2 linked regions of the Homo sapiens genome follow. The protein of the gene in region 2 binds, or shares a complex with, the protein of the main gene of each other region. Each region holds a gene or a part of one and is shown on either strand. Other genes may lie near its edges.

The links. The genes of interacting proteins can lie anywhere in the genome.
Region 1: TUBGCP5 (region 2) and TUBG2 share a complex: the UniProt entries of both Homo sapiens proteins name them as parts of the gamma-tubulin ring complex.

What each region holds. Positions count from the first base shown.
Region 1 is NC_000017.11:42,661,968-42,664,894, forward strand, and holds part of TUBG2 (tubulin gamma-2 chain), read left to right. Parts: intron 1-1,005; coding exon 1,006-1,085; intron 1,086-1,409; coding exon 1,410-1,536; intron 1,537-2,927. UniProt on the Homo sapiens protein: Tubulin is the major constituent of microtubules, protein filaments consisting of alpha- and beta-tubulin heterodimers. Gamma-tubulin is a key component of the gamma-tubulin ring complex (gTuRC) which mediates microtubule nucleation.
Region 2 is NC_000015.10:23,015,262-23,019,393, reverse strand, and holds part of TUBGCP5 (gamma-tubulin complex component 5), read left to right. Parts: intron 1-13; coding exon of another isoform or gene 14-59; coding exon 60-175; intron 176-1,352; coding exon 1,353-1,621; intron 1,622-4,132. UniProt on the Homo sapiens protein: Component of the gamma-tubulin ring complex (gTuRC) which mediates microtubule nucleation.

The DNA.
Region 1 (2,927 bases), on a different chromosome or scaffold from region 2:
CCTCAACTTACAATGGGTTTATCAGGATGTAAACACATCACAAATTGAAAATATTGACTAGGCACAGTGGCTCATGCCTGTAATCCCAGCACTTTGGGAGGCCGAAGCAGGTGGATCATCCGAGCCCAGGAGTTCAAAACCAGCCTGGGCAACATGGTGAAACCCCATCTCTGCAAAATATACAAACATTATCCAGGCATGGTGGTACATGCCTATAGTCCAAGCTACTTGGAGGCTGAGATAGGAAGATGCCTTGAGCCCAGGAATTCAAGGCTGCAGTGAGCTATGATCACACCACTGCACTGCAGTCTGGGGGACTGAGTGAGATCCTGTCTCTAAAACCAAAACAAATTTGAGGACAGGTGCGGTAGCTCATGCTTGTAATCCCAACACTTTGGCAGGCCGAGGCGGGCAGATCACTTGAGGTCAGGAGTTCAAGACCAGCCTGGCCAACATGGTGAAACCCCGTATCTACGAAAAATAAAAAAATTAGCCAGGCGTGGTGGTACATGCCCGTAGTCCCAGCTACTTGAGAGGCTGAGGCAGGAGAATGGCTCGAACCTAGGAGGTAGAGGTTGCAGTGAGCCAAGATCGGGCCATTGCACTACAGCTTGGGTGACAGAGCAAGACTCCGTCTCAAAAAAAAAAAAAATTGAAAATACCGTAAGTAGAAATGCATCAGGTTATAACCCAATAAGCCCATCATGAAGTTGAAAAATTGTAAATTGAACCATTGTAATTCAGATGCTTCTTGATTTAAGATGGGATTATGTCCTGATAAACCCATCATAAAGCCAAAACATCTTAAATTAAACCATCCTAAGTCAGGGACAGTCTGTAGGTAGTCCAGAATTGAAGTGAATTAGTGGATACCCAGCTGGCATCTACTGTAGAATTGACTGCTTACCTGATGTGTGTGGTAAGACCCCACCCATCTGGTATCAGAATTGTGTTGTGAGAGTGTGGCAGGAGAAACTGAGTCTGTTTATTCCTGTATACACACAGGGCTTCGTGCTGTGTCACTCCATCGCTGGGGGTACGGGTTCTGGCCTGGGCTCCTACCTCCTGGAGCGACTGAATGACAGGCAAGCCTGTGTTTGGGGAGAGGGCATTAACCCTGGTTCCCTGAGTAATGTCATTGCTTTTTTCTCTTGAGCTAGAAAGTCTGCCACTACCCCTTTTGAGTCATAGGGACAGACCCACCCAAGGACCATGTTGGAAGCTATTTTGGGGGGTGGGGGTTTACCTGTGGAGGGGAGGGGATCTACAGAGTTTGAAGCTTTCAGGCTTATCCTTTTTGGCTCTGAAGACTCAGTTCTGCCCTCACCCCTTTTGTACAAAATGGCACATATGGGCAGTGATGGAGGGGTCCTTCCGGTTCACTATGCCACCATCCTCTTTTCTCTCAGGTACCCCAAGAAGCTAGTGCAGACTTATTCAGTGTTTCCCTACCAGGACGAGATGAGCGACGTAGTGGTTCAGCCCTACAATTCACTCCTGACACTCAAGAGGCTGACGCAGAACGCAGATTGTGTGGTGAGCAAAGAAAGAGTTGAGGGGCTGGGTGTGGTGGCTCATGCCTGTAGTTCTAGCACTTTGGGAGGCCTAGGCAGATGGATTGCTTGAGCTCAGGAGTTCAATACTAGCCTGGGCAACATGTGAAACCCTATCTCCACAGAAAATACAAAAATTAGAGCTGGGTGCGGTGGTTCACACCTGTAATCCCAGCACTTTGGGAGGCTGAGACGGGCGGATCACCTATGGTTGGGAGTTCGAGACCAGCCTGACCAACATGAAGAAACCCCATCTCTACTAAAAAAACAAAATTAGCCAGGCGTGGTGGCGCATGCCTGTAGTCCCAGCTACTCGGGAGGCTGAGGCAGGAGAGTTGCTTGAACCTGGGAGGTGGAGGTTGCAAGGAGCTGAGATTGCAGCATTGCACTCCAGCCTGGGTGACAGAGCGAGACTCTGTCTCAAAAAAAAAAAAAAATTAGCCAGTCCTGGTAGCATGTGCCTGTAGTCCCAGCTACTTGGAGGCTGAGGCAGGAGAATCACTTGAACCCGGGAGGCAAAGGTTGCGGTGAGTCAAGATCACACCATTGCACTCCAGCCTGGGTGACAGAGCGAGACTCTGCCTCAAAAAATAACATAAAAAAAAATTAGCCGGGCATGGTGGCATGTGCCTGTAGTACTAGCTACATGGGAGGCTGAGGTGGGGGGATTGCTTGAGCTCAGGAAGTCGAGGCTGCAGTGAGCCATGATCACACCACTGCACTCCAGCTTGGGCAACGGAACAAGACCTTGTGTTTAAAAAAAAAAAAAAAAGGGTAGAGGACTTTGGTCTGTCTCCTCAGGCCAGTGAGTCTCATTCACCCCACCTTTCCTCAGCCCCTATACACACAGACAGAAGACCAACAAAGCCATACCTGTGGGCCAAATTAGGAAATAAGGTCCTGACTTCTAAGTTTCTTAGAATCCTTTTAGGCAGCAAAACTCTCAACAAAGTGAATATACCTTCCCCACACCACCACGTATCCCACCTTTGCCTACTTAATGCCCACTCATGCTTGTATTCTTAGCTCAAGGATAACTTTCTTAGCAAAACCCTTCCTGACTACTCAGTCAAGATCAGATTCCTATATGTGTATTTTAGGGAGTTAACTATAATTTTCTGTTTTATATTTAGTGTGCCTCCCTCCACGAGACTATAGGCCTAATGAAGGGAAAGACGGTGCCTGTTCCTCTCTGTGGTCTTCCCAGAGCCAGGCACAGTGTATGGCACATGTGGGTACTCACGTGTTTGTTTACTGCCCTGCGTAGTCCGAGAGTATCTCATGGTGCCCCAGAAACAGTACTTTTCTTTCTTTTTATTTTTTATTTATATTTATATATATATATATATATTATATATATTTATACTTTTTTAT
Region 2 (4,132 bases):
CCTTTTATCCTAGTGACCAGGGAACCCTGAGAGCTGACCGTGCACACTCTCTGCCTCAGGTCTCCCTCCTTTTCTCTCTCTGGGTGGAAACGGTGCGGCCTTACCTGCAGACGGTGGACGAGTGGATCGTGCACGGGCACCTGTGGGATGGCGCCAGGGAGTTCATCATCCAGAGGTGAGCTGCAGCAGAGCACAAGGTCACTGGGGGCTGGCATCACCAGTTTCCTCCCCATGAAAATCAAATGCTTTCGTTAGTTTCAGACAGTACTGAGAAAGCACAGTTCACATCACAGAACTTGTCGTCATCATAGGCAAGTTCTATCTCATTTTTACGGAAGGCATCAGTAATACCAGCTGATTAGAAATATCTTTGTCCAAGTTTTGTCAGTCCGCAACTTTTCTTAAGCAAATTATATTTTTGGATGGTAGTATATTTATGGCTAGCTAGTACACACTGCTTCCCATAAAATGAGTTTAGATGATATCATATGGTTTCAGCTATTTCCATTGTAAATTATCAGTAAAGAGATACAGAAATATTACAGAGTATGCCTCTAATATATTTATTTCTCTGAATTATCTACTGATTTCTTTTACCTTAGTATATTTTACAAAACAAGGAAAATCTTAATCCATTTATGACAATTTCCCTTCAGTTAATTGATTTTTCTGAATAGAATCATATAAACAATGTAGAGCTATTTGTACTCTTTTAGCCCAATTTTAAATTATGCGGTATATTTAGATATATGGTTTCTATTGATAGCTATCCATTGAGCTCATCAGGAAGGATAACTTTAAGTCTTTAGTGTTCTGGAAGGGTAGCAATATGTATGCAATGCTCACATAAGTGAACTGACCCTTCCTTCAACTCAATCTCATATCTGTCACTGTGTTCTGATTCATCAATCTCACATGAGAATTTTTGTGAAAAATAGGACTCTGACTGTTCTTCTAGGGTGATGATTGACCATCATTTTATTGTTAAAAGTAGTCCAGTTAAGAATCTTTGTAGGGAAAATGATAGAGAAGTCTGCAAATTAGTTTCACAGCAGATGGTAAATGGATAAACTTTTATTCTTCTTCTAAAGAGGACCAAATTAGTCATATTTTAAATAATTCCAATTCAGGAAACTATTTCTACTTAAATTTTACTTACACTATTCAAAGTATTTATTCACTTTTCTCTTTAAACTGAGATGAGATTAAAACTGTCCCATTTTGCCTAAAGTTTGCTTCAGTTTACTAATAATTAATACTATGTTTTATAATGTCTGGACAACAAACTAGAACAAGTATGCTGTTTTTAAGAAAGAGAAATAAGAGTTTAAAATTCTTTTGAATCTCTTTAGAAACAAAAATGTTCCAGTTAATCACAGAGACTTCTGGTATGCAACTTACACGTTATATAGCGTATCAGAAAAGACAGAAAATGAAGAAAAAATGAGTGATAACGCTAGTGCGAGTTCCGGCAGTGACCAGGGGCCCTCCAGCAGGCAGCACACCATGGTGTCCTTCCTCAAACCTGTCCTGAAGCAGATCATAATGGCTGGCAAGTCGATGCAGCTGCTGAAGAACCTGCAGTGTGCGGAGAGCACCACCTGCCAGGCAGGAGCCAGAGGTACTTGTTCCGTCTTCCTGTGTCTCTCTTGGTGTTGGGACACCTGACCCTACTCGCTCTTGTCATCCTGATACCTAATTATTTTGTAGTTTGCAAGTCATCAAACCCTCTTATTTCGGTGGCAATTATCGTCATGGTTGAATTAGTAACCATGCTGCTCTTGATTTTTTAAAAGATTGTCTTCATTGAAAACTTTTAGTGCTGTGTTTGAAAAGGCAGTGACGATAAGTTCCACATGCATTTTCCTCACTCTGGATTCCTTAGGACTGGAACTTTAAAAAGTAATCCCCTGCCATTTCTTTTCTTTTATTATTTTTATAAATTGACATAATAATTGTACATATTCATGGGGTACATAGTGATGTTTTGATACATATATAGTGATCAGATCAGGATAATTAGCACTTCCATCATCTCAAACATTTACTACTTCTTTATGTTGGGGACATTCAGTATCCTCTTCTTTGCTATGTGCAACTCTATAATACATTATTAACTATAGTCATCCCATAGTGATACAGAGCACTAGAACTTATTCCTTCCAGCTAGCTATTTGTATCCTTTAACAAATATCTTCCTCTTTCTCCCTTCCCCCTACAAAATCCAGCATCTGGTATCCTGTTCTACTTTTTACTAATACGAGATCAACATTTTTTAGCTACCAGATGAGTGAGAACATGCAGTGTTTAACTTTCTGTTCCTGGCTTATTTCACTTAATGTCCACCATTTCCATCAGTGTTGCTGCAAACAACAGGATTCACTCTTTTATCTTCAAGATATATACATATATATATATATATATCTCACAATTTTTTTACCCATTCATCTGTTGTTGGGCACCTAGGTTGATTCCATGTCTTGGCTGTGTGAATAGTGCTGCAGTAAACATGGGGGTGCGGATGTCTCTTTGATATCCTGATTTCCTTTCCTTTGGATAAATGCCCACCAGTGGGATTGCTATATCATATAGTAGTTCTATTTGTAGTTTTTTGAGGAACCGCCAAACTGTTCTCCATGGTGTCTGTACTAGTTTATGTTCCCACCAACATTGTGTAAGAGTTTCCTTTTCTCCACATCCTCACCAGCATTTATTTTTTGTCTTCGTGATAAATAACCATCCTGACTGGGGTGAAATGATACCTCATTGTGGTTTTGATTTGCATTTTCCCTAATAATTAGTGATGCTGAGCATTTTTTCATCTATTTCTTGGCCATTTGTATTACTTCTTTGGAGAAATGTCTGTTCAGATCATTTGCCTTTTTTTTTTTTTTTTCCTGAGACAGAGTTTTACTCCCATCACCCAGGCTGGAGTGCAGTGGTGCAATCTGGGCTCACTGCAAGCTCTGCCTCCCTGGCTCAAGTGATTCTCCTGCTTCAGCCTCCTGAGCAGCTGGGATTATAGGCACCCGCCACCACACCCGGCTGATTTTTTGTGTTTTTAGTAGAGACGAGGTTTCACCATGTTGGCCAGGCTGATCTCGAACTCCTGACCTCAAGTGATCTGCCCGCCTTGGCCTCCCAGAGTGCTGGGATTACAGGCGTGAGCCACCGTGCCTGGCCTCATTCATTGAATTCTTTCACTGTAAAATTTGTTTGTTAAACATCTGTTTCTGTTGAATTTCTCATTCAAATCATTCTTTTCCTGATTTTGTTGAGTGTTTATTTGTACTGTCTTGTATCTCACCGAGTTCTCTTGTATCTCACCGAGTTTCCTTAAGATTTTAATTCTGAATTATTTTTCCGGCATTTCCTATATCATTGTAGTCTCTTGCTAGAGAATTATTGGTTTTCTTGGGAGGTGTCATGTTTCTTTGCTTTTTCATGTTTGATGTATTTCTACATTGATTTCTACACATCTGGTGGGAAAGTCACCTTTTCCAATTTTATGGAGTACGTTTTGTAAAGAGTTATTCATATGAATGGGTCTTGGAGTGTGGGTTCAGTGGGATGCATTCACCTTGGTTCTGGACAAATGCAGTAGTATAGTCTCCATGTACTTTCTTCAGTTGTAATCCACTTTAGTGATGTTTGCAAGTGCCTCAGTGGCCTACAGTGAGGGGGTTTGTGGCAACAGTGGCACAGTTGGCTGGGCGTGGTGGCTCACGCCTATAATCCCAGCACTTTCTTTTTTGAGACAGTCTTGCTCTATTACCTAGGCTGGAGTGCAGTGGCATGATCTCGGCTCACTGCAAACTCTGCCTCCTGGGTTCAAGTCATTCTCTTGCCTCAGTCTCTCAAGTAGATGGGATTACAGGCATGTGCCACCACGCCTGGCTAATTTTTGTATTTTTAGTAGCGATCGGGTTTTACCATGTTGGTGAGGCTGATCTCAAACTCCTAGCCTCAAGCAATCCACCCGCCTCGGCCTCCCAAAGTATTGGGATTGCAGGCGTGAGCCATCACGCCCAGCCAATCCCAGCACTTTCGGAGGCCAAGGCAGGTGGATTACTTGAGGCCAGGAGTTTGAGACCAGCCTGGCCAACATGGTGAAACCCTGTCTCTACCCAAA